2 separate regions of the Homo sapiens genome follow, and region 2 is linked to region 1. Evidence: fine-mapped expression QTL. A gene starts in region 1. The other region holds a variant in brackets. All regions are shown on one strand. Distances are between the middles of the regions.

Region 1 (16,107 bases):
CCCAGGAGGTGGAGGTTGCAGTGAGCCGAGACTGCACCACCACACTCCAGCCTGGGTGACAGAGCAAGACACCATCTCAAAAAAAAAAAAAAAAAAAAAATTAGAGAACCATGGAGAAACAAAAGCAACAACAGGTTACCCATTATGAGAGGAGGATGTATTTGATTTGAGTTCACTGGTGTCATTATCTCACTGAAGTTCAAATGCTAACTGATGTCTAATTGCGGCTGTCCCACTACAGTGAGCAAGCAGCTTTATGTGCCACTGTATTTTCAGTGCCTGGAGCCATGCCTGGCATATGAAGGCTCTAACAAACACTTGTCAGTCCTTATCCACTATGCGTGACGCACTGCGTCACAGCACACTCCCGCTCCTCCTGCAGAGTTGTGAGCTCAGATTTCAAAAGGCAAAAAAGACCTGGCATTTGAAGGTGGATCTGCAACCTCACAGCCAAGAAGTGGATGACTGAAAAATGTCACTGATGCCCATGTGGCAAAGGAGGAAGGCATGAGTCAAGGGGTCAGAGCAGGATTCCTGACCCATGCTGCCTGTGAGCTTCAACCCCTCACCCCTTCTCTGTAAAGCAGGGGCAGGCCACTCCCTGCCGACCTGGCAGGTGGCCGCCAAGCTGTGCACACCATACAGCAACACCTTATCAGGGATGACTCCCACAGTGCCTGCTGGCTGGACAGCAGTGTGCGCTATTCACGAGGCACAGGAGGCGCAGCAGAAGGCAACAAGGTGAGGTAGAAAGGCCCCGGGCCTCAGAGACAGACCTGGTGCTTATATCAGCTCTGCTGCTTGGTGGCTGCCCGGGTCTCTAAACCTTGCTGCCTCAGCCCCACATCAGCCAGCACAGCAACCCCGTGTAGATCACAGGGCTGCCGTGAGGATTAAACACAGAGCAGGTCTACAGCATGCCTTTTCCTTTCCTTAAGCCAAATATGCACATTTGGGTGAAGAAATGAAAATTCCTTCCTTCCAGACCCTGCAAAGCACCACAGGCAGGTGCGACTGAGGCTATTCCATGCTTCCAACTCTGAGGGCTGGATTTAAGACTACTGTGTCTCAATTCTGTGATCATCTCTCCTCATACTTACCAACAACCAGAACGACACCGTGTGACCTTAGATAAATTTCAGAAACATACTGAGCACCTACTTTGCAGCAGGCACTATGGTGGCATGCACCTTACATCACTGAATCCTCACCTGTGGCTCATCAGCCAATCCTATACAGGAGGAGGGAGAGCCCTGTCCAAGCCAGGAGGCCAGTGACTGACACAGTGACACATCACTTTCCCTGGCAAATGGGGACGCCCTCTTGGCAAACAGCTGCTGCCTAGGCTTGCATCTCATCCAGCTCTGCAGAACAGCCACCATGGCAAGACACAGCAGCAAGCAGAGAGTGGAAGGAAGTGGCAAGGAAGAGCTCATCTGCAATTTTGATTTGAAATAAAGTTTTTGACTTAATAACAGGCAAGATGGGAAGCTGACCTTTTCCTGCTCTATCCAACACTCCTTGTACACAGAGAGAACAGACATACTTTTCATTTGTATACGGTAGCTGTTTAGGAGCTCCCAGGTGGTATTTCTGGCATCCTGATATCCATGCTTGGCTGCTTTGTAAGTGAGGAATTCGACACTGTGGCCATCAGGAGGGAAAAAGTAGCCACATACGCAGGGTGCACAGCCTGGCAATCCGGAGACGTGGGCTCTACTTCTAGCTCAGCTAGGACCTAGCCCTTACCTCTCCAGATTCACCCTCTCATCTGTGAACCAAAGGGACGAGACTGAATAAAACTGTTCAAACTGTGCTCTAGCACAGTGCTGTCCAACAGAAATAAAATGCAAGCCACGTAAGTACATTTCAGTTTCTAGTTGCCACATTTTTAAAAGTAAGAATGAAACAGTTGATACTGATTTTTAAAATATAGTTTATTTAACCTAAGATATGTAAAATACTATCATTTCAACATGTAATCTGTATAAAACATATTAGCAAGAAAGTTGGCCAGGCACAGAGGCTCACACCTGTAATCCCAGCACTTTGGGAGGCCAAGGCAGGCAGATCACTCAAGGCCAGGAGTTCAAGACCAGCCTGGCCAACGTGGCAAGATCCTGTCTCTATTAAAGATACAAAACTTAGCCAGGCATGGTGGCACCTGCCTGTAGTCCCAGCTACTTGGGAGGCTGAGGCATGAGAATCACTTGAACCCGGGAGGTGCACGTTGCACTGAGCCAAGATCGCGCCACTGCACTCCAGCCTGAGAGACAGAGTAAGACTCTGTCTCAAAAAAAAATTAGCAAGAAAGTTTATTTTTTCAGAAGTAAGTCTCAAAATCTGGCGTGGGTTTTATTCACAGCCCATCTCAACTAAAACTAGCCTCGTGTCTAGTGCCCAAAAGCCACAACTGGCTGTGGCTGCTGTATGGGACAGAGCTCCAGGAGTCCCACGAGGGGAGCCCCACTAAAAAGAGGGGAGTGTACAAGACAACTCTAAAGGACTCCCCCAACCAAAGGCTGTCTCTGTCTTTAAAAGTCACTGGTTTTTGTTTGGTTGGTTTTTTTAGCAGCACTCAAACAGATTCTGACAGAAAGTCATTAGTTTTAAAAACCAATGGACAACACCTTTCTACTCCTTGCTGCAATGAAATTCTGCCCTGTGCTTTCCCTTTCTGATGCAGGGAAGCCAAGGGGCCTGGGTCTCTAGGTAAGCTTACCTGCTGTCTGTGTCCAGTCCTACAAAGTCCTTTTTCTCAAACGGGACACAGAGAAGGGGGATCTTATCCCCAGACTTGTCTGTGGCTCTGTCCAGACGCTTGGACTCCAGCACGATGAACAGTGACTCGATGAAGTCCTCGATTCTCTTCTCCACCGTCTGGCAGTCCTCGTAGTTGGGGTAGAAAGCCACGTCGGTGCGCGGCTGCTCCACGATCTCCCCCTGCAGCCCGAAGACAAAGAGCCGGGAGTCATACAGTGTGGAGCCGTAGATCTCCTTCTGCACGTGGAACTTCTCAAAGGTCTGTGGCCAGTCCTTGGCCGAGAAGCAGTCTGTGATGGTGATGAGGCCCACGACTTTGCGGTGGGTCTGGAAGTCACCCCACTCGTTGTTCTCGGGTGGGTAGTGGTGCCTGTAGCGGATGTAGAGGACTCGCTGGGAGTCCCGCACGCTGATCTGACTCACAGAGCAAATCCTCTTATAGATCCTGAAGAAGTTCTCCTCGGAGACGATGCCCACAGGCTGGACCACCACGAGCAGCGTCTGGTGGTCCTCAGCACACTGCATGTAGTCAGGGACGCTCATTTTGAAGTCCCTGTTCAGAGAGAAGAAATGAGGCTGTGAGACACAGAGTCCTGAGTGCTGAGAGCCTACCCTGGGAGGCAGTGACTGTGACCTTCACTACCCAGAGGCAGGGGAAGCCCCAAGGAAAGCCGTGGCATCAACAGGTCTTAGGGCTCTACACGTGGCTGTCGCAGCTCTGATCATAATGCTGTAACTGTTGACCTTCAGTCCCTTGGCCTCAGCATGGAGCTTCTACAGAAATGGGGCTGTTTCTTGTCTTTCTATTCTCACCACCTAACCAGGAGTAGTAAGAGTCAGTGCTCAAAAATGTCTGTTGAGTGAATGAATAAACACGTGTGTAATTGCTCCCCCATCCCCTCAACAGGATATTAAGAAAAATCCACCATGCAATCACATCTGGATTTGAATTCCGGGCTCCCTGGAACTCCTCAGCTACAAAATAGTGGTGATAATAGAACTTGTCTTGGCCGGGCATGGTGGCTCATGCCTGTAATCCTAACACTTTGGAAGGCCGAAGCTGGCGGATCACTTGAGGTCAGGAATTCGAGACCAGCCTGGCCAACATGGTGAAACCCCACCTATACTAAAAATACAAAAATTAGCCGGGTGTGGTGGCACGTGCCTGTAATCCCAGTTACCCAGGAGGCTGAGGCAGGAAAATCACTGGAACCCGGGAGGTGAAAGCTGCAGTGAGCCAAGATTGCGCCACTGCACTCCAGCCTGGGTGACAGAGTGAGACTCCGTCTCAAAAAAAAAAAAAAAAGAGGCGGGGCGCAGTGGCTCACACCTGTAATCCCAGCACTTTGGGAAGCTGAGGCAGGCAGATCACAAGGTCAGAAGATCGAGATCATCCTGGCTAACATGGTGAAACCCCATCTTTACTAAAAATACAAAAAATTAGCCCGGCGTGGTGGCAGGCACCTGTAGTCCCAGCTACTTGGGAGGCTGAGGCAGGAGAATGGCATGAACCAGGGAGGCAGAGCTTGCAGTGAGCCCAGATGGCGCCACTGCACTCCAGCCTGGGCGACAGAGCCAGACTGCATCTCAAAAAAAAAAAAAAAAAAAAAGAATTAAAAGAAAAAGAACTTGCCTTATAAAACTGTATCTAGATTGAGGAGGTTGCGAATGTAAAGGGCCTAGCATTGTGCCTAACATAAAAGGAGAGATTACACAAATATACCACCTTTCCTTTATAAATGGGAGAGTTGCCATAACCTCTCTGAGCCAATTTTGTCAGATATAAAAAGAAAACGTTATTACCTGATTCCCCAGAGCTGGGGAAAAATTAAATTAGATGACCCACGTGAAAGAATCTGGCTCATAGGAGATCCTCAATACATGTTTGTTGAAGGGATTAGTGAACAAACAAACAAATGAACAATCCAATGAATGCTGCCCCCAGCCTACAGACGGTCATGATGGAAATCCCACTGCCTGGAAGTCAGGGCCGATATTCAACTCCCAGCTCTACACGCACGATCTGGGTGACCTGGAGCAAGCCTGTGTGCTTCCCTGAACCCTAGTTTCATTGTGAATAAAAATGAGGATAGTAACACATACCTCAAGGTGTCAGCAAGTCAACATTCTGGTTGTGATAACATACTGTGGTTTTGTAACATGGCACCACGGGGGGAAACTGGGCAAAAGGTATATAGGATCCCTCAGTATTATTTCTGACAAATGCACATGGAGCTACAACTACTATAGTCTCAAATAAAAAGTCTAATTTTTTTAAAGGTTAGGGAGATTAAATGAGCTCTCTGTATCAAATAAGAAAAAGATGCCTCGATACACACCTCCACTGTCCCCATCAGTGGGCTGACACTTCCTGAGGGGATTTGGCCATGGTCCCCATGGCCAGAGGCAGCTGTACCATGAGCTAATGGGGTTCAGCTTCAGGCCCCTTCCATGGCCCTCTATCTAATTTTGCATTTTTAATTTTGTTTTCTTTTTCTTAAATAGGAAGCCCAAAACTGCATAACCTTCAGGTCACCAAAGCCTGACTGCAGAGATCGTGGCAGTAAAACCCTCCCAGGTGACACTAAGATTAAAGTGACATTGCTATAAGACCTCTGTGAAATTCTAATGGCAAGCTTCTCACCTGCACGGAGAGGAGGAGGACTGTGTGTCGGGGGCTATCCTGGACATCACAACCCCACCTCTACAGACTTCAAAAATACACATGGATAGAGAAGTATGAACAAAATTAAATTTTAAAAAAAGGAAACCCTAGCCTCCCAACATGTCTTGCTTCTGCCCAGGATCTAAACGGTTCACAAGTATATTACATGTGTGTGACTCAGCCCAAGTCCCTGACTCCAGTGCTCACGCTCTCAAGGACGACGCCCCACTCTCTCCTGCCCTTTCCCCACAACGATTCCCTAAAGAGTCTTTTCTGCACACAAAAACCACCTTCGAAAGAACCAAAATCACATCACCTTCCAACAAAGAGGCATAAAACCCCTCGGAGGACATATCAAAATACTGAGCGGGGGAGACTGGAGCGCTCATGTTTCTCAAAAGTAGGCACAGGTTTAACAGAAGCTGAGAAACACCGAAGCCTTCATTCTACAGAGGAGGAGAGCGCGGCCCACCGCAGGTAACAAAGGGCCTTATTTTAGAAGTATCATCTCGGCCAGACACGGTGGCTCACACCTGTAATCCCAACACTTTGGGAGACAGAGGCGGGAGGATCACTTGAGGTCAGCAGTTAGAGACCAGCCTGGTCAACATGACAAAACCCCATCTCTATTAAAAATACAAAAATTAGCCAGGAGTGGTAGCACACACCCGCAGTCCCAGCTACTCCAGAGGCTGAGGCAGGAGAATTGCTTGAACTCAGGAGGTGGAGGAGGCAGTGAGCCAAGATCACAACACTGCACTCCAGCCTGGGTAACAGAGCGAGACTCCATCTCAAAAAAATTAATAAATAAAAATGATTTAAAAATAAAAACTATCGTCTCATCTAAAAAGCAGCATAATCAGCCGGGTGTGGTGGCTCACACCTGTAATCCCAGCACTTTGGGAGGCGGAGGCAGGCAGATCACTTGAGGTCAGGAGTTGGAGACCAGCCTGACCAACATGGAGAAACCCGGTCTCTAATAAAAATACAAAAAATTAGCCAGGCGTGGTGGCGCATGCCTGTGATCCCAGCTACTCAGGAGGCTGAGGCAGGAGAATCGCTTGAACCCAGGAGATGGGGGTTGCAGTGAGCCGAGATCACGCCACTGCACTCCAGCCTGGGCAATAAGAGTAAGACTCCCTCTCAAAAAAAAAAAAAAAAAAAACACAACCTGACCTCACACCTGTGATCTCAACACTTTGGGAGGCCAAGTCGAGTGGATCGCCTGAGGTCAGGAGTTCGAGACCAGCCTGGCCAACATGGCAAAACCCTTTCTCTACTAAAAATACAAAAATTAGCCAGGCTTGGTGGCATGCACCTATAATTCCAGCTACTTGGGAGGCTGAGGCACGGGAATCGCTTGAACCCAGGGAGGAGGAGGTTACAGTGAACTGAGATCACACCACTGCACTCCAGCCTGGGTGACAAAGTAAGACTCTTTAAAAAAAAAAAAAAAAAGACACCTGCCACTGAGCCAGTTCTGGTATCTGAGACTAAGCTAATACAGGTATTAAAACAGCAAAAATATGTATCTTCAACTTGGTAGTTCCTCCATAGAGCTACTATAAAACCAGCAATCCAAGAGATCTGAAAACATGTGTCCACACCAGAAACATGTACAGGAATGTACATAGCAGTATTATTCCTCTTTTTCTGAGATGGAGTTTCGCTCTGTCACCCAGGCTGGAGTACAGTGGCAGGATTTCAGCTCACCTCAACCTCTGCCTCCCAGGTTCAAGCGATTCTCATGCCTCGGCCTCCCGGGTAGCTGGGACTACAGGCGTGAGCCACCATGCTCGGCTAATTTTTGTATTTTCCGTGGAGATAGGGTTTTGCCATGTTGTCCAGGCTGGTCTCGAACTCATGATCTCAGGTGATCCACCCGCCTCAGCCTCCCAAAGTGCTGGGATTACAGGCACAACATTATTCTTGTTTTTTGTTTGTTTGTTGTTTTGAGATGGAGTCTCACTCTGTCGCCAGGCTGGAAAGCAGTGGCGCGATCTCGGCTCACTGCAAACTCCGCCTCCCAGGTTCAAGGGATTCTACTGCCTCAGCCTCCCAAGTAGCTGGGACTACAGGCGCCCACCACCATGCCCAGCTAATTTTTGTATTTTTAGTAGAGAGGGGGTTTCACCATGTTGGCCGGGATGGTCTCGATCTCTTGACCTCGTGATCTGCCCGCCTCGGCCTCCCAAAGTGCTGGGATTACAGGCGTGAGCCACCATGCCTGGCCAGGCACAGCATTATTCTTAATAGCTAAGGAGTGAAAACAACACAAATGTCCATCAACTGCCTGATACACAAAATGTTAAATCTATACAATGGAATATTATTCAGCCACAGAAAGGAACAAAGTGCTGATGTAAGCCACAACATGAATAACTTTAGAGCACTGTGCTGAATGAAAGAAGCTAAATACAAAAGGCCACATGTTGTATGATTCCATTAATAGGAAATGCCCTGAATATGCAAATCTATATATATCGAAAGTAAACCGGTGGCCGCCAGGGGCTGTCGGAGGGGGGAATGAGGAGTGACTGCTAATGGGTATGGAGTTTCTTTCTGGGGTGATGAAAATGTTCTGGAATGACAATGGTAACACAAGTGTGAATATACTAAAAATTACTGAATTGGCCAGGCATGGTGGCTCACGCCTGTAATCCCAGTACTTTGGGAGGCCAAGGCGGGTGGATCACGAGGTCAGGAGTTCGAGAGCAGCCTGGCCAACAGAGTGAAACCCCGTCTCTACTAAAAATACAAAAAAAATGTAGCCGGGCATGGTGGCAGGCACCTGTAATCCCAGCTACTCAGGAGGCTGAGGCAGGAGAATCGCTTGAACCCAGGAGGCGGAGGGTGCAGTGAGCCAAGATCGTGCCATTGCACTCCAGCCCAGGCGACAGTGCGAGACTCCGTCTCAAAAAAAAAAAAAAAAGAAAAATCACTGAATTGTACACTTTAAAGCAGTGGATTTTATGGCAGGTAATCGAGGCTCAATGAAGCTGTTATTTTTGACACACTAGATTTCTGAAACATTTATTGTTTACATGTTTCCGGACAACTGTTTTTCCCTCTACACTACTAGTCCTCCACACAATTAAAAAAACGAACAAACACACACAACAAAACCTAGCCAGATCTTTAGGACGGCAATGTTCCTGGGCCTCCAACATCATCCACCCGGTGCTTTGTTTCAGGTTAACAAATAAAGATGTCATAGGTAGCTATGACTACCTTAGAAACACGGGACAGTCACCAGTTTAAACTGGGGCCGTGAGGGATGGAAGGGAAGTCACTCCCCCATACCTTTCAACTGGGCCTTGCTTCCAGCGTTTTAATTCCTCTCTCTATAGAAACATTTGAAGACAGACAACGCATCCTAACACGGGAAAACTTTCGGTTAACAGACATTCACGTTGGGAAGGTCTGCAGGGGTGGAGGGGATTGGGGTGGGCTGACAGGGAGAAGACCACAGGCCAGTAGCCTGACTTCCTCTCCCCAGGGTTCCCTGGGATAAGTTGGAGTTGACAGCGCGCTTATCCCAGAGAGCACCGCCTGATGCCGCCCAGCTAGATCGCAGGCACTTTGAATCCAGGAGACAGGAGGGAAAGGGCTAGGGGAGAAGTCCGGGAACTCAGGGCGGGGAAAGCGCCGGGGGCGTGGGCTGTGCTGGGCCCCAGGCCCCAGCCGCGCGTCCCAGACCCCGCGGGCTCCAGTGGGCTTAGCCAGGCCCAGGGGCGGGGGGCTCCAGCGCCGCGGACGGCCCGGGAGGGGAAGCCAGGCGGAGACAGCTCGGAGGCACAGAGGGGAAGGGGACCCCCGCCGCGAGCTCGGGAGAGCAGAGCCGGCCCGGGCAGCAGGTGTGGGCCGGGTCCCGGACAGGTGTCCGCCGAGTCTTCAGCGGGTGTGGGACACGGCCTTGGACAGATGTAAGCAGAGCGCCAACAGGAGCAAGGGCGCCTCGAGCAGGTGCACGCTGAACCCCGGCCCGGCAGCGGACCCGGACAGGTGTGGCGGGCTCCGCCCGGACAGGTGAGGGCCGGGCGAGCCCCTCCGCGGGACGCGCCGACTCCACGGCCAGCCGCGCAGCCCTCCCCGCAGCCGGTCCGAATTGCCTGACCGGGAGCCCCCCCGCTTTGCACTTACACAGCCGGTGGCCCCGGGCCCGGAGCGGGAGCCCACGACCTGGCGGGCAGCGGGGCCGAGCAGCCTCTGCGGCCACTTCCCAGGCTCTGGGCTGGCGCTTCCTACTGGCGGCCGAGCCGGCGCTGCTCCTGCGCGTGCGCGGAGGCCAGGCCTGGGCCCCCGATCCGTCCCGGGTTTTGCAAGAGACGCGAGGGAAGCAAGGGGGTAGGAGCGAGGGAGAAAAGAGGAAGGAGGAGCGAGGGAGAGAAGAGGGGACAGGGAGGGAGGGGACATGGGGAGGGAGGAGGAGGAGGGAGGAGGGAGAGAAAAAGGTGGGGTGAAAGAAGGAGGGAGGAGGAGCGAGGGAGAGAAGCGGGGACGGGGAGGGAGGAGGAGGAGAGTAGGAGGAGGAGGGGTGAAAGAAGGAGGGAGGGGCAGCGAGAGAGAGAAGCGGGGGACAGGGAGAGGGTGGAGGAGGGAGGAGGGAGGGAAAAAGGAGGGGTGAAAGGAGGGAGGAAGAGGAGGAGGGAAGGAGGGAGATGGAGGGAGATGGAGCGAGGAGGGAGGGAGGGACCGGAGCAAGAGAACAGAGACTAGGAGGAAAGCTTCTGCACCTGGGGCGGCGCAGCTGGAAGGAGGCCCAGTTCTGTCCCCGCCGCTTACCAGTCCTTCAGGGCGCGCAGCTCAAATTTCACTTCCTCTGTGAAGCTCAGGGGTGGAGGCCCCGCGGAAGCCCACTGTGGATCCCTGCGGCACCCCCTGTGACCCTCACGGTACCCCCCGTGACTCCCACGGTCGTGCCCCCCACGTGGGTGGGTGACCGTGGCGCGCGCGGCCTGGGAGCGCCTCCAGGATCGCAGGGCCCGGGAGGCACGTGAGGTGCGAGCCCCAGCCTGGGCCGGCTTCCCCCTGTGTGGCGCGCGGTCTTGATCCCCAGCTGGCACCATGGCACTCCCGACTTTGAGGGCCCCAACAATCCATCCACATAAAAGGTTCCAAAGAGGCGACAGGGGCTAGGACAGCTGTCGTTAGTTCAGTGCCAAGGCGCCAAGCTTGCTAAGTGCGGGCAGAAGCCATTTAAGGATTTAAACCCCTCTGGGTTCAAAAATAAAATAAAATAAAGCAGGAGATGGGGGAGGCTTACAGACTTAAGATGCCCAGCACATGAATTAACAGTGGCATCCGCAGGGAAAATTGAAAACAGAGAGCCGCTCTCCGTTATGTATGTTTAATGTTCTGTTTGAATCTTTTAACATGTACATGTATTTCTTTTTCAATTAAAAAATCCTGGCCAGGAGAAATGGCTCACACCTGTAATCCCAACACTTTGGGAGACTGAGGCGGGTGGATCACTTGAGGTTAGGAGTTCAAGACCAGCCTGGCCAACATGGTGAAACCCCGTCTCTACTAAAAATACAAAATTAGCCAGATGTGGTGGCGCGCGCCTGTAATCCCAGCTACTCAGCAGGCTGAGGCAGGAGAATCGCTTGAACCTGGAAGACAGAGGTTTCAGTGAGCCGAGATCATGCGATTGCACTCCAGCCTGGGCAACAACTGCAAAACTCTATCTCAAACAACAACAACAACAAACACTAAAAAGGGCTGGGTGTGGTGGCTCACACCTGTAATCTCAGCACTTCGGGAAGCCAAGGCGGGTGGATCACCTGAGGTCAGGAGTTCAAGATCATCCTGGGCAACATGGTGAAACTCCAGTCTCCACTAAAAATACAAAAATTAGTTGAGCGTGGTGGTACATGCCTGTAATCCCAGCTACTAGGCAGTCTGAGGCAGGAGAATCTCTTGAACCCGGGAGGCGGGGGCTGCAGTAAACCAAGATCACACCACTGCACTCCAGCCTGGGTGACAGAGAGAGCCCATCTCAAAAAAAAAAAAAAAAAAAATCCTAAAATGGAAAAGTAAAGAGGACAGGAGTGGTTTTCTCAGCACATACAGCAGCAAGGGAGAAATGGTCTGAGCCAGCATTTTTCCTTTCAGCCAGCAGGCACTTACCCGCTCTGGGCTATGTGACCAGGGCTGTTTTATTATCACATGTGTTATAAAATAAGATACTATCCCTCATCCCTGCTCAGGGCTAGTGGAAAACCAATTGAGTTTTTATTGAATTATTTTCTACAGAGTCAGAATGAGTTATAAATAAAACATATCTTCAGGGCAAAACAAATAGAGCTGATTTCCAGCCTGCCAGACAGCCAGGAAGTTTTCAACAGAGGTGCCCAGGGGCTGAGGAAGAGTGTCTCCCTGACAACGCACAAGCTGCCCAACGTGGCTACCTCATGGTGTTACGACCGCATGGAGGCCGTGCAGTGGCTCACAGCTGTAATCCCAGCACTTTGGGAGGCCGAAGCAGACGGATTGCTTGAGCCCAGGAGTTTAAGACCAGCCTGGGCAACACAGGGAAACTCTGTCTCTTGGAAAAAATACCAAAATTAGCTGGGCAGGATGGCACAAACCTGTAGCCACAGCTACTCAGGAGACTGAGGCAAGAGGATCGCTTGAGTCCAGCCAGGTCGAGGCTGCAGTAAACCATGATCACTCTAGCCTGGGAGAGACAGCAAGACCCTGTCTCAAAAAAAAAGTGGTTTTTTTTATTTTTTTTAAATGAATAAATAAACAAAAGAGCGTATGGGCTTAACAGAGAATACAGAAAAGATACATTTAAAAGGCCACTGCTAATGGAGGTCTGAGTGCAGAAACTAGGCTCCAAGCTTACCTCATAAGATCCAAGCAAGGGAGCTATTTTTAGTGCTGAAGTCCAGAAAGGATACCCTACTTGGCTGGGGTCACACAAATGGCTGGTGCTATTTAGGGATTCAAATCCAGGGCTGTCAGACCCCACAGACTCTACTTTTTGCATAGGTCTTTTCTTATTCTGTCTGTAAGTGGATAAGGCAAGCAACTTGGAAAGCAAGATTGAAAGCTGGCAAAAGGAAACATTGCTTATTTGCAATGTACACACTTCAATCAATTTATGTTGCTGTCTCAGCAAATCTGTGGGGGAAGGAGAGCGGGGACTATTATTCTGCTTTTTTTTAAATTTATTTATTTACTTTTTTGAGACAGAGTCTCACTCTGTCACCCAGGCTGGAGTATAGTGGCACGATCTCAGCTCACTGCAACCTCCACCTCCCGGGTTCACGCGATTCTCCTGCCTCAGCCTCCTGAGTAGCTGAGATTACAGGTGCGCGCCACCACACTCGGCTAATTTTTGTATTTTTAGTAGAGACGGGGTTTCACCGTGTTGGTCAGGCTGGTCTCGAACTCCTGACCTCATGATCCTCCCACCTCGGCCTCCCAAAGTGCTGGTATTATTACTCTGCATTTTTACCAATGAGAAAACGGAGGCTCAGAGAGTGTAAGAGCCTGCCACAGCCCAGCCCACAATGATCAAATGAGAACATCCAAAGCAGTCCCCGTACTGTCTAGGTCCTGGGGCTGTGCTCCTTTAGCATCTTTAACATTTCCTAAGCATCTCCTCTGAAGGGTGACAATTCAAACATACAAAACCTGCCCTCAAGGAATTTACAGACATCTAAGGTTGGAAGGAATTTCTAAAATAACCAGGTCCAACCTCATACTCACACTCTCTCCCCTCTACAAAAGTCCTAACAGGCAGAATGCTTTGATGATGTGGCTATTTGTCTTAGTTGGTTTGGGCAGATATAAGAAATTACTAGAACAACACTGAGATCAGGGCGCCAGCATGGGTAGGGTGTGATGAAGGTCATCTTCTGAATGGCAGATGGCTGGCTTCTTGTATTTTCACATGACAGATAGAGAGCAAACTAGCTGTCTGGTCTCTTTTTTTTTTTTTTTTTTAAGATAGAGTCTCACTCTTGTTGCCCAGGCTGGAGTGCAGTGGCGCAATCTCAGCTCACCACAACCTCCACCTCCTGGGTTCAAGCGATTCTCCTGCCTCAGCCTCCTGAGTACTTGGGATTACAGGCATGCACCTCCACACCCAGCTAATTTTTTGTATTTTTTAGTAGAGACAGGGTTTCTCCATGTTGGTCAGGCTGCTCTCAAACTCCCGACCTCAGGTGATTCGCCTGCCTCAGCCTCCCGAAGTGCTGGGATTACAGGCATGAGCCACCGCACCCGGCCTAATTTTGTATTTTAAGTAGAGGCACAGTTTCACCATGTTGGCCAGGCTGGTCTCGAACTCCTGACCTCAGGTGATCCACCTGCCTCAGCCTCCCAAAGTGCTGGGATTACAGGCATGAGCCACCGTGTCCAGCCTGGTCTCTTCTTAGAAGCGCACTAATCCCATTCATGGGGGTTCTGCCCTTATGACCTAATTACCTCCCAAAGGCCCCACATCCATATATGATCATATTGGGGAATAAATTTAAACATATGAATTTGGGAAGAACATGAACATTCAGTTCATAACAAGCTCTACAAGAAAATTATCCAGTAAACTCAGCCAGAATATGCTTCCCTGAAACATCCAGTCAAGGGGTCTCAAGAAATAGGACCAAGCTGGCCTCGGTATCTCATGTCTGTAATCCCAGCATTTTGAGAGGCCAAGGAGGGAGGATTGTTTGATCCCAGGAGCTAGAGATGAGCCCAAGCAACATAGCTAGACCCCATCTCCACACAAAATTTAAAAAATAGCCGGCACGATTGTGCACACCTGTAGTCCCAGCTACTTGGGATGCTGAGGTGAGAGGATTGCTTGAGCTCAGAAAGTCAAGGCTATAGTCAGCTCGATCGTGCCACTGCACTCCAGCCTGGGAGACAGAGCAAAGAGTGAAACTCTGTCTAAATATATATACACACACACATACACACACACACATATAATATATATATAATCTATATATGGGACTAATGCCCCACAAGGCTTGCTGAGGTTGACAATTATCACAGCTGTGAGTTAAAAGTACAGGCTGGGACAGGTACGGTGGCTCATACCTGTAATCCCAGCACTTTGGGAGGCCGAGGCAGGTGGATCACGAGGTCAGGAGTTTGACACCACCCTGGCCAACATGGCAAAACCCCGTCTCTACTAAAAATAATAATAATAATACAAAAATTAGCCGGGCGTGGTGGTGGGCGCCTGTAATCCCAGCTACTCGGGAGGCTGAGGCAGGAGAATCACTTGAACCTGGGAGGCAGAGGCTACAGTGAGCAGAGATCGTGCCACTGCACTCCAGCCTGGGCAACAAGAGCAAGACTCCGTCTCAAAAAAAAAAAAAAAAAGTGCAGGCTAGACTCCAGCCTGGGCAACAGTGTGAGACCCTATCTCAAAAAAAAAAAAAAAAAGTTTAGGACAGAGTCCCTGCTCCATCACTCCCTAATTACTTGCCTTCCATATTTTCAGTTATTATATAAGGATAATCATTTCATAGGGCTATCATTAGGATTAAAGAAAGTGTGAGAAGGCAATTTGAGACAGAATGGACAAATTCTGTCACATGCTACTTGTACAGCCTCAGGGTAAGGTGACCATATAGCTTTACTTTCCTGGTACAATTCCAGCTTATGTCCTGGCTAACGGTGTTCCGGTTGGGTGATCCAATCACTCCACTTTGCACAAAAGCCAGCACCTCTCAAGGGTTTTGATCCCCCACCAGTACCATAAAGAGTTTCTTCTCCTTCCCGTGTTATAGGACTCCATAGTGTCATGTCTCACCTGGGCTTTCTAGCTCACAGGCTATGGAGGGAAAAAATAACTATACTTATTTAGCACAACTAAGAACCAGCTACTTGGTTAGACCTTCATAACTCTTCCTTCAAAATAACACGATGGTAACTACCATTTACAAAACTTTTTTTTATCTTTTTTTTTTTTTTTTGAGACAGGGTCTTGCTCTGTGGCCCAGGCTGAAGCGCAGTGGTGCGATCTTGGCTCACTGTGGATCCTCTTCCTCCTGGGCTCAAGCCAACGTCCCACTTCAGCCTCCCATCATGCCCGGCTAATTTTTGTAAATTTTTTTGTAGAGGCAGGGTTTCCCTACGTTGCCCAGGCTAGTCTGGAACTCCTGAGCCCAAGTGATCCGCCCGTCTCGGCCTCCCAAAGTGCTGGGATTACAGGCGTGAGCCACCGTGCCCGGCCTCATTTATGAAACTCTTATCTGGCAGGCAATGTGCAATGTGCTTGGCATAAATATCTCATATCCTCACAATAATCGTGTAAGGAAGAAACTCGGACTCAACCTCAAGATAAGCACCAAAGCTCATTTTAAACCTCACTGCCCTCTGCAAGATAACTATACAGATGCTCCTCGATTTATGATGGGTTGCTTCCCGATAAGCCCATCGCAAAGTTGAAAAATCCCCTAAGTCGAGCCACCCTAAGTTGGGGACGCCTGCATCATGCTTTCAGAGGTGAATGTAAAGTGGGTGAAGCGGCTCAGTGATTGAGCGCTAGCCAGGATTCCACGCCAGGCCTTTCCGTGTTCAACAGCTGCTTTCAGAAGTGTGGAAGCCTCGGAGAGGGTCCCTGAGGTAAGATGGGCTGAGCGTCGCCGCCTTCTGCAAGGACACCAGCCTTGAGAGAAGAGAGGAGATAAGGTGCAAACGAAGAAAGGCAG
Region 2 (16,107 bases), 160 kb before region 1:
GTCAGCCCTCAGGACTTCTCAGCATTGTAACAGAGGTCCTACTCAGGGCACTAAAGCAAGAAAAAGGAAGAAAAGTCATACAGGCAATTACTCACAGAAAACAAAACCAGGGTCAGAAAACGCTATGGAATCTACAATGAAACTTGAACTTTCGAGTACATTTAGCAAAGTGACAGAGTCAGAAAAAAAAGGCGTTATTTCTATAGTTTAGCAATAAGCAATTGGGTAAAATATCATTAACAAGCGATCAAAACCGTCAACTACATTAGAATAAACCTAACAAATGACAGGCAAGGTTTCATAACAGTTACAGAACACTGCTGAGATAAAGAAGCCCTGGGCGAAGGGGGAAATCCTGGATTCTTTTTAGCGGGTTGGTTTTCTGCAGCAGTATGGTCAAAGCTACCCCGCAACTATCTCAGATATGACAGGACTGAGCATCTAAGTAGATGTGCTGATGTTGGGAGCCCGAGTTCTCACGCGGGAAGAAAGGACACACACAGATGGAGGAAGGCAAGCACCCTCTGGAGAAGTGCTGGAAAGCGAGGGTCCCCGTGAACAGGGCAGATGCTACATGCATGTCTATGGTGCAGACGCAGGGGTATACACATGTGTACATATATGTAGGCATATGGGTTTAGATATATATATAGTGTGTGTGTGTGTGTGTGTGTGTGTGTGTGTGTGTGTGTGTTCTCATGTATGTGTATATGCACACAGACTTTTCCCAACTCTGTCTACAGGAAGCACCCAGAAGCAAAGCCACTCTCTCGGCAGTGAGTACACTTAGTGCCCGGACTTGGAGCCAAGGTGTGAAATGATCTATGTGTGGAACAGATGCAGCAGGCAAGGGTGGAAGCCGAGGAGCCAATTGTCTCTAGGCAAATATATTGGCATTTATTTCTTTTGAAAATAGCTAAAGCAATATGGCCAACTGTGAACATTTTTTAAATGTGAATGGTGGAGATGCGAGTGTGTACTATTCCCTGTAACATTTCATAGGTTTAAAATACTTCCTAATTTAGTTTTTAAAACTTTGCCCATGATTTGTGGGCTATCTCCATGTGGTGCTTTTTATTTTGTTCCCTGCTCTTCCTCATTTGTTATAATAAGCACATATTGTTTTTAAACCAGATAAAAATGAAAGCTACATTTTAAGACCAAAAAAAAAAATGTGTAAGAAAGAGCAGCAGGCATTTGATACTTTAACCACTTTGGGGAAAATTCTCTAAACTGCTTCTCCCTACTAAGGCTGAGACAGAAAGCCACAGGAAAGGCCAGAGCCAAATCCTACTGCAGGTCAGTCCTCGCCCAACAGGAGGAGAGGCGCTCCTCCCGAGCGCACCTCGAGACTACAAGCTGAACATCCAGCTGAGCTTCCAGGAGCTCAGACAGATTTCGGGAAACTATGCCACGTGCTAGAGGCCTAAACAGCATTTCAACAGCCACCACGTGTCCACCTGGCAAACTGCAACTCAGCCTGTACTCACAGCCAGGCTGTCACATCTGTCCCAGGAACCCTTCCCTGACTCTCCAGGGCCAGGCAGACTCCCGTCCACAACAGGCCTGCAACACCTCATGCACCCCAACAGAGCCTTGGTCACAGTCGCAGCAGGGACCAGGGCCTGACCATCTCTGTCCCCTCAGGGCCTTGCCTGGGGACCGACACGTGGCAAGAGCACTCAGCGAGATACATGCATGAAAGGCCCGCCTCTTACCCTGAACACCAGTCATAAAACTCTAAAAGACAACATCCATTCTCGCAGCACCCTCCTTTGCGTGCTGCTGAAAAGTTACACAGCAGCACCACACAGCAATGCAGAGAAGACTTGAGGGATGGGACCTACATCGGCATGGGAGGGCCCGCTCTGAAAACACAGAATCAGCTTAGAGCGCCAGTACTAATCTCCTTCCCCCTGACTAGAGAATTGGGTAAGCATTTCCAACAGAAGAGATTACAAACTGAATTTTTCACACCCTACACAAAGCACAGAAATGGGACGTCAGGATTTCAAAACAAGAGAAAGCTCGTGGTGGTGGTGGTGTGGTCATTTATCCTCCCATTCCACAGCTTGTTCTTCCCTGGGGCCTTGGTCATCTTATCATCTTGCAGCAATAAAATAATGCTGATACCGTTGAGTAGCAGGCAGAATGGGGACTTTGCAACCTCAACACATCTCACGTAAGCTTCGAAATTATTATTTCACATCTTATACCCAATCAACTAAGCTCGGCATGTGTTCAAATCAGAGGTTTCTTTGTAGGTTCAAATATTTATTGAAAACCAAGCCTAAAGACACAGGAATAACAAAACATGGTCTTCATTTACAATAAGCTTATATGCTTTGGCAAAACAAACATAAAAACAGACACATATCGTAAGATGTGTGCCTCAGACATTAAGTAAAACCTACTTTAATGAGAAGTTTGTATGTTAGCCCAAAAAGGTCAAATGATTGGTGATACATACCATGTTTTCAACTCGAAGTTCAAACGGCATTGGGTTATATACCATCAGCTGAACTTCACACACATCTCCTTGAACCCACTGGAAATCTAGAAAATACACACACATAAATGAATCCATGTATTAGTTGGTATTTTTTCACTTTCTACATGGTTTCCAATTATTCCTCTGGCAATTTACATTCTCAGTGAGGCAGCAGGCTCTATGATCTTCTTGAGATGGGTGATTCAAAGCTGCTTTTTCCACCAGCTTTCTCTGAAACAAAGCAAGGTAGCTGTCACTGGCACTTTGATGCCACATGAATGGCGCTTGTCACTGCCTTCGGCGGGCTGCATTCATGCTGGCATCAGTCCAGATGGCACTGTTCTTGGTACAGAGCCATAAGGCACACTGCGCTTCACGGGGCCCAGAAGCTGGCAACACAGGAAGACGGCACTGGGGTCACTTGTGAGTAACACGGAGTGTGATTTGCCCTATTCCCCTAAGATTGTGAGAGGGGAGTCTTCTCCTCCCCACCCACTCCCAGGTCAACTGCAGTTCAGTACCTGTGCAGGGGCAGAATTCTGACGACCTCCAAAACCCCCAGCCTTGGTGTGCACAACCTGGTGTGCATGCACTATGTAATCCCCACCTTCAGTGTGAATATGATGATTAGGCTATATTGTAAAACAAAGGTGGAAAGTTTTTGCAGATGTGATTGAGGACCCCAATCCGTTGACTCTGAGTTAATCAAAAGGAAGGTTGTCCTGAATGGGCTTGTTCTAATCAGGTGAGACCGCACAGGAGACCATATCCTTGCCTAGAGGGCCTGTGGAGGGGACCACATGGCAAGGGCCTAAGAGCAGCCTCTGGGAGCTGAAAGCAGCACCGGCAGACAGCTGGCAAGAGAACGGGGATCACAGGAAATGAATGAAGAACGGCCTGAGGAGTCGTGAGAGCAGGCCCTTCCCTTAGTTGAGCCTCCAGATGAGGACACAGCCCCAGATGCCACTTGGATTTCAGTCCTGTGAATCCCTGAGCAGAGGACCCAGCTGAAGCCCACACAAATCATGAGGAAGCAGATTTGTGTTGTTTGAAGCCACTGAGTCTGTGGTCATTTGTTACAAAGCAACAGAAAGCTAATTCAGCATCTGTCCCAATTTCCATCACCCCCTCCTCCCTTTACAATCCTCTCTTAGGCAAACCAGAAGGAATTTCAGAATCAATCAACAGGTGGCAGGCATGTGTTAGGTGTGAGGCACTTCCACACAGGTTATCTCATTACTCTGCATAAGGACCTCCTGAGATAGGTATGATAACCCCCGTCACTGCAAGGCAAACACTCAAGGTCCAAACAGGGTAATAAATTGGCCCAGGAACCACACAGCAAGCGAGAGGAGCTGCTGGATTCAGGCCTCTGAACTCAGAGGCACCCCGAGCAGACACGGGTGGCTAACAGGGCAGTGGAGGGCTTCTTCTCTAGCAGATAAGAACGTCTGTTGACCAGAATTATTCAACTTTCAGAGCTTTCATAAGCATGTTCTCAAGATACAGCTTTTCCCACACACTCTGCAACCTGCACAGAGATGAGGACTGACTCCACCACACCTATGACATCTGACCCAGAGCTGGCATGTTGACATTGCATAAATTCCCTATTTAATAAATGGTGCTGGGAAAACTGGCTAGCCATATGTAGAAAGCTGAAACTGGATCCCTTCCTTACACCTTATACAAAAATTAATTCAAGATGGATTAAAGACTTAAACGTTAGACCTAAAACCATAAAAACCCTAGAAGAAAACCTAGGCAATACCATTCAGGACATAGGCATGGGCAAGGACTTCATGTCTAAAACACCAAAAGCAATGGCAACAAAAGACAAAATTGACAAATGGGATCTAATTAAACTAAAGAGCTTCTGCACAGCAAAAGAAACTACCATCAGAGTGAACAGGCAACCTACAAAATGGGAGAAAATTTTCGCAACCTACTCATCTGACAAAGGGCTAATATCCAGAATCTACAATGAACTCAAACAAATTTACAAGAAAAAAACAAACAACCCCATCAAAAAGTGGGCAAAGGAATCAACAGACACTTCTGAAAAGAAGACATTTATGCAGCCAAAAAACACATGAAAAAATGCTCACCATCACTGGCCATCAGAGAAATGCAAATCAAAACCACAATGAGATACCATCTCACACCAGTTAGAATGGCGATCATTAAAAAGTCAGGAAACAACAGGTGCTGGAGAGGATGTGGAGAAATAGGAACACTTTTACACTTTTGGTGGGACTGTAAACTAGTTCAACCATTGTGGAAGTCAGTGTGGCGATTCCTCAGGGATCTAGAACCAGAAATACCATTTGACCCAGCCATCCCATTACTGGGTATATACCCAAAGGACTATAAATCATGCTGCTATAAAGACACATGCACACGTATGTTTATTGCAGCACTATTCACAATAGCAAAGACTTGGAACCAACCCAAATGTCCAACAATGATAGACTGGATTAAGGCCATGTGGCACATATACACCATGGAATACTATGCAGCCATAAAAAAGGATGAGTTCATGTCCTTTGTAGGGACATGGATGAAATTGGAAATCATCATTCTCAGTAAACTATCGCAAAAACAAAAAACCAAACACTGCATATTCTCACTCATAGGTGGGAATTGAACAATGAGAACACATGGACACAGGAAGGGGAACATCACACTCTGGGGACTATTGTGGGGTGGGGAGACGGGGGAGGGATAGCATTAGGAGATATACCTAATGCTAAATGACAAGTTAATGGGTGCAGCGCACCAGCATGGCACATGTATACATATGTAACTAACCTGCACATTGTGCACATGTACCCTAAAACTTAAAGTATAATAATAATAAAATTTAAAATTAATTAATTAATTAATTAATACAGTGCCCACCAGGTGAGCTAACAGCTCCCCTAATGCCTGCACCACCATGTACTCATCTGAGCCTCTGCACAATGCAGTGAATGGCCACAGTCTATGTCAGCAGCACAAATGTTATGCCCGTTCTACAAAAAAGGAGAACCCACCTGACAGGCTGGCCCGCCTGCCTGTCCTATGGTCCTGAGAAGCAAGAAAACTGAGATTCGAACTCCAGTCTGTCTCCAAAACCTACACTCTTTTCACCCTACTGCTTCACCTCTCAGGACCCCAGAAACTCAGGTCTTGTCCTTCCCTCATCCCAGCTTCCATGCCCCCCACCTCCCAGGCCCACCAGCTTCTGAGGACCTTCAATGGGAGGGAGCTCACCCGACCTCCTCATTTACACAAGTCAGTGGCCAGAGCACAACATGCTCCCAGCCCGCCTGACCCCGCCTCACCCAGCCTGCCCGGGGCCACTGATGGTCAGCATCCCAGACCACTCCTCACCACAAATGAAGAAGGTCACTCTCTTTAAACAAGTGGCTAACGTCTGGTAATTAAGAAATGGCTTGCCCTATCATGGTCATGATGATGATGATGATGATAATAAGCCATTTGAAAAATCATTTTCTAGAGTACTAAAAAAATAATGTACACTTAGATGGTCCATGTCTACTAAAGGGTAAATCTAAAATAAACTGTTGATTACATAAAAATTTATTCTTCTTTTTTTTTTTCTTTTTTTGAGATGGAGTATCACTCTGTACCCAGGTTGGAGTGCAGTGGTGTGATCTCGGCTCACTGCAACTTCCACTTCCCGGGTTCAAACGAGTCTCCTGCCTCAGCCTCCCAAGTAGCTGGGACTACAGGTGTGCGCCACCATGCCCGGCTAAATTTGTTTGTATTTTTAGTAGAGACAGGGATTCACCATGTTGGCCAGGCTAGTCTCGAACTCCTGACCTCAACTAATCCCCCCCACCTTGGCCTCCCAGAGTACTAGAATTACAGGCGTGAGCCACCACACCCAGCCTGAAAAGTGATTTTTGCTGAAAGAAGGAGATAACCCCTTTCCATCCTCAGCATGTCAAAGCACACGGTGGTGGCCCTTCCTCACTATTTTGTCCTAGAAGTAGTGGGAAGGCACAAGAATTAGCCTCTCTGAAACCCCCTCATCTCAGGCCCTGCCCTCCCTGTTGCGGGACACACTGTGCATGCTGTCATCTGTGGACCCACGGCACCAGGCAGTGGCGTTTATTGACAAGTTCGTCTCTTTCTGCTAAACTGTATGGACCCATGTGGCGGGAAAGACTCCTGATTTATCAATGCATCCCCAGCACATAGCACAGGGCATATAACTGCTACCAAAAATGTTACTGAATGGCTGCCAGGGACTTTAGAAACATTATCTCCCTTGATCCTCAAAACCACCCTCCGTGTCAGCTTCTAATGTCCCCATTCTGCAGATAGCATGACTGCAGACCACAGAGGCACAATCAGCTGTCCACGGTCACACAGTGGGGAGCTGCAGGGCCAGGGTGCAGCCCAAGTCCACCTGACAGCCACAGCCTCTCCAGGCCACCACGCTGCCTCTGGGGCAGCAGTCGACCTTGGCACTAAGCCTGGCAGCACCACAAAGACCTATCACAAATGACAGAAGGCCTTCAACCCAACACACTCAAGCTGAGGCCAGTGTTGCAGTCATCTTTGCATGGATGTAGCTCAGATGATGGCCACACCAGCCAACACACAAAGACTCGTGAACTATCCCAAGTTAAAGTGGAAAATGGTCTCAAACACTACCCTCAAGAGTTTCTTCATCTCCAAAACCCTATGCCACCTGCTGTGATGATACCTCCCCCAATTATACACCGAGGTTCATTTAGAGAGACTGGAAATTTAGGTTAAAGTTATGTGATCTGTCAAGCTTCTGCACAAGCACTCACTGATCAGTACACTGCCAAAAAGATATTAGAAGCTATGGGATATAAATTGCATTTTCCTACCAAACAAATAATGTGCATTTTGGCTGAAACTTGCGTTATATCTCAGAAAAAAATCTTACATCATCCACTGAATTTGTCCTCAGCCCAGATGAGCAGGTACTTCTTACTATGGTGAGAAGCCATACTATAAAGAAAAAAGGCCCTGGGCATCGAGTCCTGCAACCTGGCATGGAGCCCGGGGAATGTCACTGATAAGCTATCTGACCTGGGGCAGGTACTTAAATTTCGTTCAGTCTTAATTTTCTTATTTGCAAATAGGGAATATAATAATGCCGGCAGCATCAGCATCAAATAGTTTTGAGAATCACTGGATAATGTTTGCTTAAGCCCTCTTCAACAAATACAGATTGTAATTTTCACAAAAGGAATCTTTGACAATGTCTTTTTATTTGTTTTTTGAGGTAGGGTCTTGCTCTGTCACCCAGGCTGGAGTGCAGTGGTACAATCTTGGCTCACTATAGCCTCGACCTCCCAGGCTCAGGTGATTCTCCCACCTCAGCCTCCCAACTAGCTGGGACCACAGGTGCCCGCCACCAGGCCTGGCTATTTTTTTGTATTTTGTGTAGAGATGGGGTTTTGCCATGTTGGCCAGGCTGGTCTCGAACTCCTGGGCTCAAGCAATCCACCAGCCTCAGCCTCCCAAAGTGCTGGGATTACAGGCGTGGGCCACCACACTCGGCCAACAATTTCTTAAGATTGAAAAGGAAAAGCAGAGAGGCAGGGCCTACAATCCATGCCATCAGTGGCACAGGGCCCTGTGCCCTGGCATCTGGGTTCACGCTCTGCTGTTGCTGTCTTCGAATTCCTAGTGATGTTTGAACAAAGGCCCTATGTTTGCATTTTGCACTGGGCCCCACAAATCACATGGCCCATCCTGAGAAGAGGAGTCTCACACCTCCAGTCTCCTAAATCACCTCTGGAAGTTTTTCTCAACGAAAGAACTGAAGCTTTCCTCAAAAGTTCCGTAGGGGAGACAGTTCATCACCAACCCCAATGAGAACACAAAAGAGCAGCCAGAGACTCTAGAAGGTCCCAGGGGGAAGAGCCTGAGCACTCGTAGGACAGCAAGTCCGGGGCCAGGGGAGACAGAGGAGCCCTGAGGGTGGCCTGCCCATCCCCACGGAGCTCGGAAGACGCCCTCCAGAGAGGAAAGGTGGAGTTCCCACAGGAGGCCAGGAAACGACGTCCCCAAAACACAGTGAGGACAGGATTTGTACAGCTCTCTCCTGCTTACCGCAACACACGCTGGAGCACATCTGGGGCTGCCATCAGGCCCTGCCTGTTCATCCACCACGTCTACCCAGCGCCTACACTTCCTGTCACCTCATGTTCTCCAGATCAGAGAAGCAGTGGCAGGAGAGACAAGATTGGGGTGTCTTTCAGAATCAATAGACTAAAAATGGCATTTTAAAAACGCATACACACACACACATGCATGCACACACTCATACACACACATGCATAGACACACACACATACACGCATACACACAATATACACATGCATACACACATACAGATGCATACACATATACACACGCATACACACACATACACACATACAGATACACACAAATTCTAGAGTAGATTATATAGTTAGTGCTCACATTTTCAGAAATTTTCCAAAATACAGTATTGACTGCAGTTTTTCAAGGGCATGACCCCATGTCTCTTTATTTTCTTCTCATTCTAACAGTGAACAGCTAGAACAGCTGGAGCCACTCCTTGCAAAGCCCACACGGCTCCTCAGATGGAGGCTGTGTCTGAGCCTCCAGAGGGCTTCCCCAGGGTCTGCGGGGCCCCCACCCCACACCCCACTCCCAGTTAGCCCAGTGTTTATTGTTCATTCGAGTTCAACGTGTAAGTAACCAGGTACCCCTGCTGACAGATGTACAGTTTTAGAGAGCGTTTATTCACATTTAGTCTCGATAGTCAACTTCTCACGTTTGTGTCTTGCCTGCATGAACTAAACTGAAAAACCAGCCGAGGGTGAGGACTGTGAGGTCCAGGTAATAGGTCTGTCCCACACCTACTGTGCACGTGAGAGGAAACCATAGGGTACTAATGGGAACAGGACACGTGGTCTGTGATGTGAAATCAAGCTTGTCACTAACTGAGTAACTTTTAGTTACTTCTAAAAGTCGTTTCTCTAAGTTTGTTTCCT[C/T]ATCTGTAAAAGGGAGATAAAAATGAAATCTCCCAAAAATACTGGAAAAACTAAATAAGGTAACATATGATAGCCTCTTATAAAGCACAACTAGAATAAAAGAAATGATTACCATTTTTAAAAGCACAAGGTTCTTTGAGTACTCCTACCCTAGTTATGCCCTTTATCTCAGCAAACAACTTTATTTCCTCTGAAGCACTTTATTTTTTAAGGCATTCGGATAATTTACAAATTGTTAATGAAGTTTATTATGAGACCCTTACAGAAGCTAAGAAATCCTAGAGCTAGTAATATATGAGAAATGCTCATCAAGACAATGTGCTGGCTGGACGCAGAGGTCCCCACCTGTAACCCCAGCTCTCTAGGAGGCCGAGGCAGGGGATTCACTTGACCCCAAGAATTCGAGACCAGCCTGGGCAACATGGCAAAACTCCGTCTCTACAAAAAATACAAAAATCAGTGGGTGTGGTAGTATGCACCTGTGGTCCCACCCACTCGGGAGGCTGAGGCAGGAGGATCAACTGAGCCCAGGAGGTTGAGGCAGCAGTGAGTCCTAATTATACCACTGCACTTCAGCCTGGGTGACAGAGCTAGACCCTGTCTCAAAGAAAAAAAAAAGATGATGTGCTACACGTAATGCTCTTATTGTCCCTTCTGCCTTGAATTCCACCATGCCCTGCCAGGAACATGAAATGTACAGTGAGATCTAGGTTCTCCTGTGAGTTCTTGGACATGACACTTAAACGTCGTGAATCAGTTTCCCCGTCAACAAAATCTATAAAATGGGATTCATAATATGTACCCCATCCATTCATTCATTCTTTTGTCACTGCTCCAGGTGCTGGGGAGACAGCAGCTGCACACAGCCTGACAGAATTCTGGGCTTCAGGTGATATTGCAGGACAAAGCATCAATGGGCCAGTGTGGGTTTGAGCTGGAGAGAAGCTGGGAAGAGAATCCCAGACAGCACCGCTAGAGATGGTGGGAGGAGTGGCCTGCAAGGCGCTGGGATCAGAGAACACCCCTCTGAGGGAGGGGGCATTTGAACAGAGACCAAAAGGATGTGACAACAAGAGAGCCAATGATAGAGGGGCAGGGGACGAGTTCCTGGCAAAGGAAAGAGCGAGCCCCAAAGCCCTGGGCTTGGAACAAGCCTGTTTCTTTCCACGACCAGAAAGGAGTCCCTGTAGCTAAACCAGAGTGATGGTGGCAGGAGGTGGCATGAAAACCCCGACAGAGCGGGAGGGGTGTGGGCAGGGGGGGGTCAGGGAGCGCCTGCAGTCCGTAACTCGGGGTGTGGGTGAGCTTGCGAGTGCAACAGGAAGCCTCTGTCCTGGAAAGAAAAGCATGGTGGAAAAAGGAGCCGGAATGCCTTCTTCCTAAATTGGAGGTACAGGAATTAAGAGTAGAAATAAAGAAACAGAAGGAGAAGAAAGCACTGGATATCAAACACAGAGCGCCGCGGTTGCGCAGGCCTCCCGCTCACACTCCTCGGAGGCCCCGGCAGTCGCCAAGCAGCGGCCAGCCTCCAGGCCCTCAAGGTTCTGTCACAGGACGTGTGGGCTCAGCCGGCAGTGGTCCCCAGTGACTGGCAGTCACAATCTCCTGCAAGGGGCCTCGGGCATGTCTTTGTGGCAGCAAGGGATGGGGAGCTTGGCACTACAGCCGGGCTTTGGGAAGGACACCAAGGGACAGGGCCGGTGGTGCATGCTGAGCCCTGGTGCAGGAGGGACGAGAGCTCAGACACAGGAAAGCTCAGGAGAGATTGTCCACTCCCAGTCTCTCCCACAACACAGCTTAACCCAGGACTGACTATCCTGATCACCTGTGTTCACAAAAGAACATAACACGATTACCTCACCCTCCACTCAGTCCTGAACACCATCCAACCCTGAATCTTTCTCTGATGACTCAGAAGTCACTTCAGCCCTTGTAAAATCAGTCTACATCTCCAACTGTCACTCTTCTGTAGTTCACATAAGTCTCAGTTAACAAAAGTCTTTCTGGTTTCCAGAACTTTCACAAAATTACCTTATATGAAATAAATTTTTTAAAATCACATCTATGGGCAATTGCCTGCCAAAAGCAGCAAATCAAATAAACTTCCATGACAGACTGCACACACGCACACACACGCACACATCTGTGCACACATCCACACATGGACACATGTAAACACACATATGCATGCACGCACGCATGCATACACACATACACGCACATATGCACGCATGCACACATACATATGCATGCATGCACACATGCACACACATATACACACATATGCATGCGTGCACACATCCACGCACGCACACACATGCACATGCATGAACTGGCTCAAAATGCTGTTCTAAAAATCTAGAAAAGCCATTGGAAATCAGGTGGCAGAGCACGGTGGGAAAGCCAGGATCGACGTCCTACCTATTTTCTTGTTCCGCTCTTCTCCACGGTTGTGTGCGATAATTGGTGAATAGATGAAAGGACTTTTGGTTGACACGTTCTGACCCAGCAAGCTTTTCATTTTGTGTGGCCGGAGGCTAGCAGGAAGGTTCAATAGTTTCACATGCCTGTTGTTTCAAACAGAACACAAATACTTCAACTGTCTGGTTAGCGTGGTTTCAGGATAAACATAACCAAACATGATGTATCAGAAAAACAGTAAATCAGTCAGAAGGAAGATAAATGGAGGGAGGAAAAGCACTCCGAGGCATCAGGACACAGCAAGGAAGTGTTGCAACAGTAACTCAAGATTCTCCCAGACAGGGGAAATCACTCCCTGGAACTGGGGGAGCAGCCACTTCCCTCTGGGGACTCCTGAACTGGGCCCAAGGATGGTCTGGAGTCAGAAAGGCCAGCTTGAAATCTCGCTTCACACTTACCAGCTGTGTGCCTTTGGGCACGTGCCTTGCCATCTCTAAGACGTAGGTTCCTTGTGTATAAAGTGCAGGTGGGGCCACCACCTTCCCCATGGACCCATGGGGAGGATCCAGCTAAAGACTCCTGGCACAGGGCCCACTGCCTGGCCCAGGATGGCTCTTCTCTCTCTGCCTCTCCCTTTCCCAAGGGACCTGCCCACAGCAAGTGGCAGCCAGACTCTGACCCATGGGAAGAGATGGCACCCATGAGAAGGTCAACAGCACCCTCTGCTCTACTCGCATGCAGCAGCATCTGTATCTGTCATCGCTTCCCACAGTATCCCAGCTGTGGATGTCTGCCAATCTGTACTCATGCTCGAATTCATCCAGCTAGCATTAAGATAAATTTACCAATCCATGGAGTCTGAGCATGAGCAGGCACTGTGCTAACCACTGCATATGTATTCTCTCACTTAAACATCACAAACACCTTCTTAGTTTGGGTACTATTACTATTGTCTCCATGTCATCAATAAGGAAACTCACGCAAGAGGGACTAAGTATACTGTCGCAAATCCGATGGCTGGAAAGCAGTAACAACAGGTGACACTATGCTCTTAAACCACAGTACTAGAAGGTGCTGTCACCCTTGTGACCAGTTTGGGAAGACGGTGGTTAAGATCTGGAACACTCCTGGACGTCAGACAGAAAGGACAAGGAGCAGAGGTGGGAAAACAGGAAGACTGATAGTGACACTGATCGTGATAAATCTACGTGCTCCCCACCCCCCGCCTCCCGGCCTCCGCAGGAAGGTGAGGCCACCTGAGGAGCTCTGGCCAGTAGGTTGTGAGTGGGAGCCACCGAGGCCTCTGTGAGACACACACTTTAGAGTGACGGGCCAGCCCCCAGCTCTCTCCTTCGGCTGCACGGCCATGGTGATCCTGGAGGCTGGACATTGAGAAGGTGGAGCACCAGACAGATGCGGCCTGGAGCACTCAGCAACCTCCCAGAGCTCAGCTGCCCTGGAGAGCCACCCAACCCACACCAAACTTGTGTGAGGGAGGTAGAAACTGTTGTTACAGTAAATCACGAAGATTTCAGGGTTAATTTTTCTGCCACAGTGCACCCTAACCTATACTGCATAATAACAACTGCCTTACAGAATCCACAAAATCACCACCTCTCTCAGTGAGGAGGGACCTCAGATGCCTCATTCCAGCCTGCTCTGTGCAAAGCATGCCTACAGCACTCGGCAGACAATCCCCACCACAGACCCACATCCCAGCCCCGGGGAGCCTGCCACATGCGTGGTTCTCACCCACCACCCTCAGTGACTCACGGCAGGAGATGGTGCTAACCCCGCGCCCTCCAGACCAAGGGCACACCCAGCAGGTGCTCCCCAGCTCCCTTCGCTCTGTGTGTGCCCTTCATTATGCCTTTATCATAGCGGATCAGAACCATTTCATTCTGTATCTGTTTCCACTCAGCTGTGAGCCTGCTGAGGACAGGGGCACCAGGACCTTATCTGTCTGTAGCTGCAGAACTAATAAAAATTGTACTTAGCCTATGAAGCTGCCAACAGCAAAGCAGAAGTCCAGGGATAAAGTGTCCAAGACAAGGATGATTTTGACAGATTCCATCTGGAAACTGCTGACACCGTAAAAACCTGACTTCCCTCAGGAACAGCAGCCGTCAGGGCCGCGCAGAGCACCGCAGAGCGCTGATCAGGAAAGCGACGCCAGACGAACCGGTCGAGAGGAATGACAGTCAACAACCACTCACCTTTTGTTTCTTGGTATTTAATTCATCAATCTTATTCACAGGGAAACATATCCAAGAAGAGATGGGTGGGGACTACGACTGGCCTCAAGTGCCTCGTGTGTATGACGGCGTGGAGGCTGCTTGCTCCGAGTCCGGAGCAACTGAGAGAGCTGGAGAGGGCAACCGCGCCAGCTGTAGTAGCAAGGTGGGGCCAGCCGCTCCCATCCTGAATGCTGCTATACATTTCTTATCAGCTCCAAACAGCTCTGGTTTAAGAAATTCTTAAGGAAGGTTATGGCTTGGCCGCTAGACCATGTATGGGAGAAAATCCTGGACAGTGGCATGAACACAGTCATGGAGGCTGCATCCTGATTGGTGTCTGGGAGTCCGAAGCACGACCCTGAATTTGGGCCTCTAAACACCTCTCTGAATAAATGCCTAGAATCCTTCCTCAAACGGTAGAATTAACTTAAAAGTTTAAGTTTTAAACGTATCAAAGCAACTCGAAGCTCACTCTCACTAGAGGATTTGGGTCTTTGTTCACGTAAACGCCTTCATTAACTCTTAAGCTCTTCTCCAGGTTGAAGGAGCTCAATGTTAGCTCTTAAAAAAAAATATTCAATGAGTCCCACTCCCCATCACTGCCCCCAAATTAAAGACTCACTGGTTAACTGGAAATGGCACTGAAACTTTATTCCACTTCCTTAATAATAATCCAGGACTTACAGTGTGTTAATAATCTACACGCTTACTAGGGGCCTGATAGACTACTGTTGGCTACTGTGTACACACTGTATCATTTTTGCAGAGAATTCCATAGATAAGGAAAAAAGATCACTTATAGTTCTATCAGAACCATCCTCTGCTTTAACTCTGGTCAACAGCAACAGGATGTGGGCTTGGCTGCCTCCTGGCAGATGAGATCACGCTTGGCCACTACCATCTCTTCGCAATTAGCCTTGGGCCAAAAGCGCGTCTTAGGCACTCAACAAATATTTTATTAATTGAATTTTGGAACACAATTAAAATAGGGATGTATTTTGGCTCCTTTTTCATTACTTGCATCGGAATTACTTGAAACCATCTTTGGGTGAGCCTAGTTCATGCTCCCATGCTACAGAGAACAAGTAAGTATTTTCCTGTATATTGCTAAAATAGTTTTATTGTCAAATACTAAGAAAGGCCTCAAGGGAAAAGAAAATGGCTCTGACCATCTATTCTAAAACCAAAGTCATAATTATGAGCCAAACCCAGCAGTAAATTCGTTTATGTTTAACGATTCTATATAGCAGGTCTGATAATTTACTCACCAATGTAGACATTTTTCAACCAGCTTACCCTGTAACACTAACAGGAGCTTTAGTCTTCAAGTGTACATATTACTGAGCTCTTCTTATGTCATAGGGGCTGACCTGCAATGCCTGACTTAATTTTTTTTTTTTTTTTTTGAGACAGAGTCTCGCTCTTGTCGCCCAGGCTGGAATGCAGTGGCATGATCTTGGCTCATTGCAACCTCCACCTTCTGGGTTCCAGTGATTCTCTTGCCTCAGCCTCCCAAGTAGCTGGGACTACAAGCACCTGCCACCACGCCCGGCTAATTTTTGTATTTTTCGTAGAGACGGAGTTTCGCCATGTTGGCCAGGCCGGTCTCGAACTCCTGACCTCCAGTGATCTGCCCACCTCTGCCTCCCAAAGTGCCAGTATTACAGGTATGAACCACCGTGCCCAGCCCCAATTTTTTTTTTAATTAAACTGGTAAAATCCATGTTTCCGGGCATAGGACGTTGAAGTGTTTGGTTGATATATGAAGACAGTCCCGGATTTGTTTCCTAAGGAAGCACCTTGGCCTAATCCATAGCTACTGCCCAGGCCTTCCTTCAGGTGGAGATGAGGAGCAAGGATTTAGGAAGAGGGGGACAACCCTACATGTGATGTGGACATTTAACTACTGCACACAGATTCACTG

Evidence for each region.
Region 2: its variant is fine-mapped to the expression of TRAPPC9 in whole blood (INTERVAL, PIP 0.92).

What each region holds. Positions count from the first base shown.
Region 1 is chr8:140,448,068-140,464,174 of GRCh38, forward strand. TRAPPC9 (trafficking protein particle complex subunit 9) reads right to left here and starts at 9,677. Exons shown (of 23, transcript NM_001160372.4): 1 at 9,572-9,677; 2 at 2,723-3,316. The coding sequence starts at 3,306. RefSeq lists enhancers at 63-636, 637-1,209, 9,931-10,449, 16,032-16,107 and silencers at 9,222-9,271, 9,382-9,771, 9,862-10,101, 10,222-10,531.
Region 2 is chr8:140,288,523-140,304,629 of GRCh38, forward strand. It overlaps TRAPPC9 (trafficking protein particle complex subunit 9), which reads right to left. Exons shown (of 23, transcript NM_001160372.4): 11 at 11,947-12,092; 12 at 2,471-2,556. Among named protein-coding and RNA genes, the nearest start is that of TRAPPC9, 160 kb to the right of the region's middle. RefSeq lists enhancers at 10,531-11,031, 11,032-11,532, 13,701-14,201, 14,202-14,702. The variant C/T (reference allele first, on the strand shown) is at 9,526.